Regions from separate parts of the Homo sapiens genome. Here region 1 is linked to region 2. Evidence: fine-mapped expression QTL. Tissue or cell type: whole blood. Region 2 holds a variant in brackets; the other region holds the start of a gene. Each region is shown on its reference strand, or each on the opposite one. Region 1 holds the start of TREML1 (triggering receptor expressed on myeloid cells like 1). Region 2 overlaps TENT5C (terminal nucleotidyltransferase 5C).

Region 1 (5,374 bases), not on the chromosome of region 2:
AGTGGATGCCCAGGATCCCCTGTGGCCATAGCTCACATGGCTGCCTTGCCACCTAACCTGCGCTTGGGCACCTAAGGTTTAAATCACTAGGATGGAGCCCCTGGCATGGCCCTCATGTTCCAGCCTCACTTCAACATGTCACTCCCCTGGTCCCAGCTGTGCCCCAACCCTGCCTTGTCCACTCCCAATGTAAGCTGCTCCACTGGCTCCCTGTCCTGGAGCCTTGGGATTCTGGTCCAACCTGTGTTCCCATGGCCTCCCTGGCTCAGGGGCACATTAAACTTCCTCATTGTGTCCTGGGGCATTGCCCCCTTCCTATAGATCTAGGGCACAGGTAGCACCAAGAATGAGCCGAGCCCAAACTGCGCCTTCTCCACCTACCTCCTGCCCCAGTTGTGGGCACCAGTGCCGATGAAATGGCCTGGGAGGCTCCCCGCGGCCTGCCTCGTGCTCCAGGGCAGTGGCTGCCATCAGCCCCAGCCCAGAATCAGGCTTTCCTCCTCATGGGAGCTTGGCCTTTTCTCTTTCCTTCTCTGCCATGTCAGAGACATTCCTCTCTGGACTGGAATCACCACAGGCTCTCCTGCCTCAGACTCTCTGCGAGCACTCTGGACTGAAGGGAAGTGAGGCCATTTGGCCTCAAATTTCAACTCTGCCTCCTATTAAGACACCTTAGGCAAGCTCCTCAATCCCTCTAAAACCCAGTGCCCTCGCTTGTAGAAACAAATAAACAAAACAACCACTTCCCCTACTTTGCAAGGTTTTTGTGAGGTTGAAAGAAATAACATTCGTGGCCAGACATGGTGGCTCACGCCTGTAATCCCAGCACCTTGGGAGGCTGAGTGGGGTGGATTACTTGAGGCCAGGAATTCAAGACCAGCCTGGCCAACATGGCAAAACCCTGTCTCTACTAAAAAAAAAAGAAAGACAAAAATTAGTCAGGCATGTGGTGCATGCCTATAGTCCCAGCTACTTGGGAGGCTGAGGCAGAGAATTGCTTGAATCTAGGAGGCCAAGGTTGCAGTGAGCCAAGATTGCGCCACTGCACTCCCGCCTGGGTGACAGAGTGAGACTGTCTCAAAAGAAAAAAAAAAAAGAAAGAAATAACATTGTGAAGGTCCTTGGCCAGGTGACTGGCACATAGTAGGTCCTCAATAAACACTGGTTTCCTTCATCTAACGCCCAGCAACATGATGTCTCCATGAAGGCCAGGATCTTGCCTGGTCACCTCTGTCTCAGCACCCAGCAGTGGACCATATTCAACACTTAGTCCAGTGTTGAATACAGTTCACCTCTTCACACAACACGCCTGGGTGGCTTGTTAGTATGAAAATAACTTTCTTATAAGGAAATCAAAGAAAGCCTGATATGCATTGGCAAGACAGACATAAGCACATCACCAACTAGGGTGACCCGTCCTGGTTTGTTCAGGACTTTTTCAGTTTTTGCACAGAAAGTCCCAAGAAACCCCTCAATCCCAAGCAAAAACGGGAAGTTGGTCACCCAATCTCCCACTTCCACAAGGCCCAGCTTAACACATTAACTGATTTTCTCATGCTCCTGCTCCCAGTTTCCCATTCCTCACTCCCTTGTTCCCAAAGGAAGGAAGGAAAAAGAGGAAAAAAGGTGAGACGGGAGGAGATGGGAGTGAGGGAGAATGGCCTTTCCAGGCCCTTTTCTAGGTCTTACCCTCCAGATTAGGGCAATACGCCCCTCCCACCCATCCCCAGCTGCTGTAGTCTCTCTGACCACTGGTGCTTCCCCTGTGTCTGAGGTCAGATAGTTTATTAGGTTTATTACTCACACTTTGTCCCAGTTCCTCGAGCCCAATTCCACAGGGCAACATGAATGAGAGCCAGGTGCCTCCTGTGCAGGCAGTGAGTTTGGATCACAGGAGAGAAACCCCCAAATTAGGAGACTTGGAGTTTATATAGAGAATCTGGTATATCTTCCTCTCTGGAAGAGAGAGAGAGAGAGAGAGAGAGAGAGAGAAACGTTTACTCTGGAATGTAAATCTCCGGTGAAGAAGAGGAAGAATGCGAGCAAATCTCTGGACGTTGCACTCAAGGTATGTTTGCTATTCAATCACCCTTCAGCAAAACTTGGCCAATACCCTTTGCACAGAAGGACTAGAACATGCAGCAATGTGAAAATATTTGTGAAGAATTGTCTTCCAACAGAGAAGATAGAGCATTCATGAAACAAAAATAGTATGCCAGAATTTAAAAATGCTCAAAGAATAAGGAATATCTTGTCTTGTAAATTAAAAATATTAAAAAATAACATTTTAAAAGACAAAAATAGAAGGATGGAAGAAAATGAGGAAATCTCCTTGAAGGCAGAACAAAAGAGACAAAAAGATGGAAAATGAGATAGAAAAGATATGAAAATGAGATGAACACACGACATTCAATAACCAACTAGTTAAGGAATTGCAGAAAAATGGAAGGGGAGAAGAAAATGGACATGTAATTATCAAAGTAAGAATTTGTTTCCCAGAACTGAAGAATGTGGATCCAGATGGAAGGGTTCTATAGTGTCCAGGACAATAAATGAAGAAAGACCCAGTCCAGGGCACAGGATCAAGGTGAAACTTCCTGTTTGAGGTTGTACTGCATACAACCTCCTAAAAGCTTGGGTGGTCGTGGGGCACTCCCAAAGAATTGAGAGCAAGAATGGCATTGAGTGAGGTGCAGGGCACTCTACCTTCCTCCTTCATAGCTGTGCACCCTCAGATTCTGTATTAGGAAGATCCTGAAGATCATCTTTCCTCTTCCTCTCCTGTCCTCCAATTGTCACAATCCTCCCATCTCACCCCTTAGCCGGGCCCCAGCCCCTGCAGGCTTCTAGCTTTCTTCGGGTCTTCTCATCCTGTCTTGCCCACCCTTACCCTCAGGGCAGTTCCTGAGCACTGAGCCAACCAGGGCTTGGAAGAACTCCCTTTCCCCACCCCTGGAGGTGCCCATCATTTCCTTTCTCCCACCCCAAGTGACTTTCTGAGGCAGATGTTTCCTGCCCTCAGGCGAATGCTGCATCAGTGCCCAGGCAAGCCCAGGAGTTGACATTTCTCTGCCCAGCCATGGGCCTCACCCTGCTCTTGCTGCTGCTCCTGGGACTAGAAGGTAAGGTTCAGGAGGAGCTGCAGCTCTGGGCCCCATATGCTCAGCCCCATGTCCAGGAGTAACGTGTTATTGTGAATGCCACACCCATACCAGCAGCTGGGCTGGGAGATGCTCCCAGCTCCTGCCCAAAATTCCCACCTCCTTTCCTTCCCCAGGTCAGGGCATAGTTGGCAGCCTCCCTGAGGTGCTGCAGGCACCCGTGGGAAGCTCCATTCTGGTGCAGTGCCACTACAGGCTCCAGGATGTCAAAGCTCAGAAGGTGTGGTGCCGGTTCTTGCCGGAGGGGTGCCAGCCCCTGGTGTCCTCAGCTGTGGATCGCAGAGCTCCAGCGGGCAGGCGTACGTTTCTCACAGACCTGGGTGGGGGCCTGCTGCAGGTGGAAATGGTTACCCTGCAGGAAGAGGATGCTGGCGAGTATGGCTGCATGGTGGATGGGGCCAGGGGGCCCCAGATTTTGCACAGAGTCTCTCTGAACATACTGCCCCCAGGTGAGTTATCCTAGGCCAGCTACCACCCCTTAGACCTACCCTCCCCACCCCCGCCTATTGCCAGGGCTCATGGGTTCTTGAGGAGTGGGGGCCCCTGGGGAGGAGGCATTCCAAGGAGATATCCTCTTGACAGCTCTGCAGGGAGCGGAAACCAAACTGGGTGGGAAGTCTGAGATAAATCAGCTGAAAACCATCCCTTTCCCCCTTCCACACTACTGCGCTTCCCCACAGGAAGGCATGTCCTTCCCACTCCAGGGACTTGGCCTCTTCTTCCAGCATTTTCAACATACTTGATGCTAACTTATTTTTTAATTAGAAATATTTTAAACAATGTTGAATCTGAGTGTATAAAACCAGAATTAATTTTTGTAGCTTCCAGTGTTTTATTCCTGTAATAGCGGGCTTGATGGCTTAAGAATTATGGAATTCATACCTTAATTAATTTTATAAGTCTTCACAGGCCATCTAGTATGTCTCACCTACAAGTAGGTACATTCAGTGCCTGAACAACTTCAACTCCTTTCGTTTTAAAAATGGAAAAATGTCATTAATATTTTAAGCCAATATTCTTGACCCTATTTTCAGTATTAAAGACACTGTTTTTGCAGGTTTCATTCCCACAGCCCATAACTTTTCTAGTATATAAGCATTTGTTAAAAGAAAATTTTAAAATATTAAAAACTTGGGTTTTTTTTTTTAAGAAAGATAGGATGTTCTAAAAATAAAAAATGGTCAGCTACCTGAAGCACAGACAGCCACTCCTTTTCTTTTATGGATACTGGCCATTTTTTCACCTTTAGGTCTTCCTTTTCTCATATTTTATGCCCAACCCCCAAATAATAAAATTAAGTAGAGCATTTTCCCTTCCCTTGTTTTTTGTTTTGTTTGAGACAGGGTCTCACTCTGTTGCTCAAGCTGGAGTGCAGTGGCACTATCGGCTCACTGCAACCTTGGCCTCTCGGGTTCAAGTGATTCTTGTGTCTCAGCCTCCCAAGTAACTGGGACTACAGGTGCCCACCACCATGCCCAGCTAATTTTTGTATTTTTAGTAGAGACGGGGTTTTATCATGTTGGCCAGGCTGGTCTTGAACTCCTGACCTCAAGTGATCTGCCCGCCTTGGCCTCCCAAAGTGCTGGGATTGCAGGTATAAGCCACCACCCCTGGCCCCTTCCCTTGTTTTTTTTCCCTCTAAATAAGAGGGTAGACTATGTTGTCATTAGAATCCTTCTCATCTCAAGCCTGTGGTTATTGTTTTATATTATAAATATATTGTTAATCCTTGTCATCCTTTGCCCTCCTCATTCCTTGACACTTTGAGTTACTAAATTCAGGTTCTAACTCACTAAAAGGCAAATTGTGACAAGATGAGACTCCCTGGGAGGAGCGTCAGGGAGGCAGGGACCTGGGCCCCTGACCTGCTGCCATGGGGCAGGTGCTGTGGAGGATGATGTTCAGGCAGGCAGGTGGCGCGTAGCATCCAGAGATGATGTGGCTTGCGGCTCAGGTGAGCATTTAGCTTCAGAGAAGGTGGTCAAAGGCAGCCTAATAGGCACCAGGAGGGCAGGACATGTGCCACAGCAACCCCAGTTCCTGGTGTGGCATAGGATGGGGAGTAGGAATGGTGAATCTCTCAAGAACAAGGCAAGGCCCCATTCCAGTCGGTCTGAAAGGACTGGCCAGGTTCCTAAGACAAGTCTCCAGGCCCAGAGAAACCAACCCCAAGTCCTGCAGCCAGAAGTCAAGCACATCATATGGGTGACAGA
Region 2 (5,374 bases):
AAAGGGCTCCTCACTTTGAATCCCTTGAACCCTACTGGGCACCAAACTGCCACTCAAACAGCAAGCCAGAAACCTGGCCACAAGCCTCTGGTTTAATGTTTCCTAAAGGAGGGACTGTGCCCGATTCAGCAGCATCCAAAATTCAAAAGGCAAAGTCAAAGAAGAGTTCATTTCCTTTCAGTAATATCTAAAGTAGGATGGAAAATAAGCCTGCTGAAAAGCTGCCTCTTTTGCCAGAGCTAGAGAGAGAGAGGGAGCACCTCTCCTGCTGTTCCTGGTCAGATCAGGTGAAGGCCAAGGAAACTGATCTCTCACGGTAGGGGGAGGGGATGAAGGGCACAGGGACAACAAGGTACATGCAGTTGACTTAAGAGCAGGGAAAAAACCACAGAGGAATGTTTTGTGTGGGATCCTGAGATAGCAGGGGATATGAGGACCAGAGGCTGCCGCAGACCATTCACAGCCACCCAAGCGCTGCTTCTCCCAGGCTCCCGCTTACCTGAGCCAATGTAAAGATTCTTTTCAAAAAAGTCTTTGCTAGCTGTAGTGTTTATTTAAGGATAAGATGACCCAACTTCCACTATATTTAGTGCATGAAAAACCACAGGTGTTTGACTCCAGGAACTGCTTAGGGTTGTGCTATTAGTTTTCTGACTCCCCTCCCTTCTTGGTTTCATTGTTTCAGCATTGCAGGTGAGCTGGTTTCCTGACTTCTGCAAAAGCCCTCCTGCACTCCCCCGCCCTCCTCTCCAGCCTGCAGGTAGTTTAAATACCCCCATAGTACATGGCTGCCTGGATAAGGTGTGGGGGAAACTGTGATGCTGTTTCCATTTCAATTCTAATTTAAAATGCCATGCCAACCACAATAGGCACCCTATTTTAACTTCATCAGTTGGCTTAATTTTTAATTTTAACTAATCAATTTAATCAGTGGCTTTGTCCTCCTCCTCATTCCTCTTGAAAGGCTTCTGTTGGAAGGCAGGATATTTGCTCTCCCGTGCCTCTTCCATGTGCCACCCTGTAAAATGCAGGACAAAGACAAAATAGCATACTGTAAAAGAACTGACAGCTGGAGCCTGGGAGTCAGACACCCCAGAGCCAGGTGCTGGCTGCAGCAGCTGTATGACGTTTAGGTTTCCTCACCTGTAAACCTAATCATCCTATCTCAGACTTTTTGGAAGATTAAATGCTAATGCTTAGCATGGGACCTGGTGCTCCATGAGCATTCCCCAAACATGTTAACGAGCCTGCAATGGGTCCCCCCACACCTGATTCACAAAGGGAGGGTTGTCTGAGGAAAGCTGCTGGTTTGTCCAAGGAATTCCTTTCCTGGATAAGTGGAAACGGATCTATTACCAGGCAACTCAACACCTCTTAGGCCCTTGAGAGGGGGCTGACATAAAAACTAATATTTGCAGGGTGAGTTATAGTTTACAGAGTGTTTTCAGTGTTGTAATAGTGGGGGAACCAGGCTTTGCAGTCAAATCTTTGTGCATGGGCTCTGTCTCTTACAAGATACGTAACCCTGGGCAACTCAGAGGCGCACTGAGCCTCTGGCTCCTGTGTACAGTGGAAACACTGCTACCTAGCTCACGTTTCTGAGACCTGCAAGCTATGTATATGCAATGTGTACTTGGTCAACCTAAAGCCTTAGTCTAAAGTGAGGAGTTCTCATTCCATTTTCTCATGGGTTTAGTTCCCAACAGGCCTCTTGAGAAAAACCTCATTTACTATCCATATGGAAGGGATGGATTGAAATGGCTGAAAACAGCCTGGCCAAAGTTGCTGTGGTGCTGCCCGTCTCCATCTCTCTCTCTCTCGAACACTATAGCCTCGGATACCTTTTTTCCAGGGAAGCACCCGAAAGAAAGGCAGCGACTCCAGCTTCTCATGCCTTTCCCTTAGGGACATTTCCCATTTTCGGAAACTTCCTAAGTAAAAGGTGGCCCTGGGATGGCCTGCTGTGGTGAAAATGCCCTGAGCTGGGAGACCTGTGATCCAGTCATGGCCAGAACAGGTAGCCTGCGTTGCTCTGAGCTGGGTGAGGAATGGTATGAAACCAAGCCTCCCGACAGGCTCCAGCTCCCTAGATTCTGGGCGGCACTGACAGAAACCTGCTTGAGAGAGTGATGACAGTCAGAGTACTGAGGAGTGGCTCACCGCCAGGGCAGCACATGCTTCTAGGTAGCATTTATCCCCAGGGAAGGACACAGTCCCGTGTTGCAGAAGGCACAGGGCCAGGAGGCAGGAAACCAGCACCGTGGCCCCAGGTCCAATGCCGTCACTTCGGACAGGAAGTCGCTTGACTCAGCTTTTAGGCAGGGAGCAGGGGTAGACCACTCAGCCCAGTCTGGGCACCACCCCTGACTTGCCTCTGACTCCACCTGCCATAAGTGCATACGGAGCTGAAGGCCTCTGGAGAGGATGAGGCTCCAGGCCAAGGTAAGGTGGCAGAATGGCACCATCACACTGAGGCTCTGGCTGCTCAGAGGTCATATGGAAAACCCCCACAGGTCCTGCTGATGCTCTCAGCATCTTCCAGCTGATACTAACCCCAGATTACAACCAAGCGCATTACTATCCCGCCCAGGCGACTACTCGGACAGTGAAGGAGAAAAAGAATCCCCGCTCGTTTAGAAGTGTACTTCTGGAACCCTAGAGGTCCCGGGTGGCAACGACGGGAGCTTCATTCCAAGGCTGAGGAATGAACACTTGGGGATGGCATGAGAGGAATTCTACTAAAACACCAGAAGGATAGGTCTGCCAGGAGGACTGGGTGGGTGGGGAGTTTGAAATAATACTGCTGAGCGTGAAGACTGCAACCCTTAGTACTGACCTTGCTCAGGGGCCAAGAGCTTGTGTTCAATTGTGTTAGTGTCCGGGACATGACTACTCATTCCAGGAAGCTGGGCACCAGCACATCCCACACAAGTTGTCCTGCGTATAAATATTGGTCTGGACAAGGGGACTGAAATGGTTTCTGGCACCAAAATGAGGCATTACAACACATTCAGGTAAATATCCAGGATTCAGCCTCTAAGTGGCTAATGGCCCAAGGACAAGTCCTCCAGGGAAAACCCATCCAGTTCAACATTTGAAGCACCAAATCTATGCCAGTTATGTGAAAAGTGGGCAGAGAA[T/C]GAAGCACGCAGGTGTTCACAATGTGGGTGAAGAGCTGATGCAACCCAGTAAGAACACGAATAGAAAAAGCAGGAAGGGGGAGGTGGCAGACATAGGGCCTGGTAAGCCAGAGGAGGTGAGGATTAGCTGAGATTTTAGAAGCCTGCTGTGGGGTCACGTGCACGGAAGAAGCTGTGTGCTCCAGAACTCCAAGTAGGCCAGCTTAGTATAGTAGGTCAAAGGATAGGAAGGTAGACTGGGGCTAGCTAGCTCCAGACATCTGCTCTTGCACAGACATGTTGAGTCTGACATCTGCTCTTGCACAGTAGGGTCTTACACAGGTTTTAATGTATGGGAGGGGCCCAGGCACATCTGTTTTAGAAAAAGCCCTTGACAGAGTCAAGAAAAATAGAGACAAGACTCATGAAATAGCCCAAGCAAGAGCTGAAGGCAACCAAGAGGGCAGAGTCAAGGAACATTTCAGAAGGTACACGCAGTAAAAATGGGGAGGAAGAAGATCGTGGGGATGGCTGATGGGCAAGCATAAGATCAGAAAATTGCTCTTCAATGATCCCAATTCTTGTAGTGAAAAGAGAAGAATGTCACCCCAGCCTTCATGAACAGTTCTAGATCCAGACAGTGTCTAACCGATGTGAGTAGATGACTAGAACAGAGGTAGTCCATCATAAAGCTAAAGAGGCCACTGACATGGATGTGGATGGGCAGAATGAAGGGAGGAGTGAAGAGGCAACATGGAGAGTGTGAGCTGGCAGTCAGGGCTTAAGAGGAGTGAGGGTTACTTATTGAGTAAACATGCCAAAGAAGTGATTGGAAGGACTCCACACCTACCAGACTCCAGAGCATGCACATCCTTGGCTGAAAGGTTTGAGGAGGAGCAGGGACAGGTGGAGGCAAGGGGATGAAGGATTTTACACAGCCAAAGACATAAGTTTCATGAGGACAGTTAGGAGAATGCCATAGGATTTCAAAGAAATTCCACAAAGAAGGGAGGCCACGGAAGGGGCAAGACTTGGGGTGGGCAGGGGTTGTTGTGAATTAGATCAAAGGAATGAGGAGGAAGGTTGCTAACCAAAGTCTACAGCATCTCTTTATACCCTTCAAACATCTATCAACCACTCCAAGTATCACTTGTTCACTTCTATACTTCTTTAAAAATGTGAAGAAACTACAGTAGTTGTACATGTATGGCTGAAGTTGTTTTCTTTGTTGTTGTTGAAGTGGGCTAGGAGCTAAAGGGACTGAATTAAACAAGGTGCCAGCAAAGGCGAACTGCAAGACTACACCTGCCGTGGGTATTAGCTGAAAGGCTGTGGTCAACAACGAAGCCTAGTTTAAGTTAGCTGGGCACCTTGAAAAAGAGCCCAAATATTAAGGGATTTGTGGTCTCCAAGGTAACCACACAGCCCTCCCCCCTCAAAAAAGCATCTGTCCTTCAGAGAAGCATCCAAGGCTGATGTTGACAGCTTCCTATTTCTATTCAATGTTTCCTAAAACCTAAAATTCATCATTGAGAAGAAACAAATCAATGAGCATAAATGACAAGTTTTATTTAAATTTTAAATATACCTTTATTTCTCAAACTCAAAGCTTTATCAAGTTCTAACACATTTTGCATTGACAAGTGATTTTATCTGCATCAAGTAAGGTTAGTGACCACCACGAAAGAGGAATCCCCAGACCTCCTAGGCACTAAGAAATATTTCAAAGGCTATGCAAATATAGAACAAAAAGCTTTCAATTTAGTCTAATTGGTATCTATTTTTCATCTATATTAATTTGGAAATAAGTTGCTACCTTAGAAAAATTACATTTTTATCCATTAAAATAAAACACCAGATAGGTTGAGTTTTTTTAAAAACACCCACAGATCTGTATTTAGCTACTTCCTCTTTAGTAGATGGTCATCTCACCTTCCTATGCAAACACACACAAGAATTTGCACCAACTCTCACTAGCCCAGGCAAAACTCCAAGCATTTTATTTAGCTTACACTTCAATTATTTTTTTAAAGTGATAGGTAAACAAGATTTAGGCACTTGAACACACACACGCACACACACACACACACACAGTCTTTTATTTCCTGATCTTAACCTTAGAGTTCTCCACAAATAATCCTGAAAAGTTGCCAGATCTTTAAAAATACCTCTCCTCAACACCGCCCCCCTCCCCCACGACTTGGTCCTCTGATTTTAACTGGTTGAATTGGAATATGTTCCAAAGCGAGCTGTGA

Evidence for each region.
Region 1: it holds the start of TREML1, and the variant in region 2 is fine-mapped to the expression of TREML1 in whole blood (TOPMed, PIP 0.94).

Annotation. Positions count from the first base shown.
Region 1 is chr6:41,151,994-41,157,367 of GRCh38, reverse strand. TREML1 (triggering receptor expressed on myeloid cells like 1) reads left to right here and starts at 3,021. Exons shown (of 6, transcript NM_178174.4): 1 at 3,021-3,122; 2 at 3,278-3,610. The coding sequence starts at 3,080.
Region 2 is chr1:117,627,683-117,633,056 of GRCh38, reverse strand. TENT5C (terminal nucleotidyltransferase 5C) reads right to left here. Exons shown (of 2, transcript NM_017709.4): 2 at 4,668-5,374. Among named protein-coding and RNA genes, the nearest start is that of TENT5C, 24 kb to the right of the region's middle. RefSeq lists enhancers at 1,648-2,198, 2,199-2,749. The variant T/C (reference allele first, on the strand shown) is at 3,141.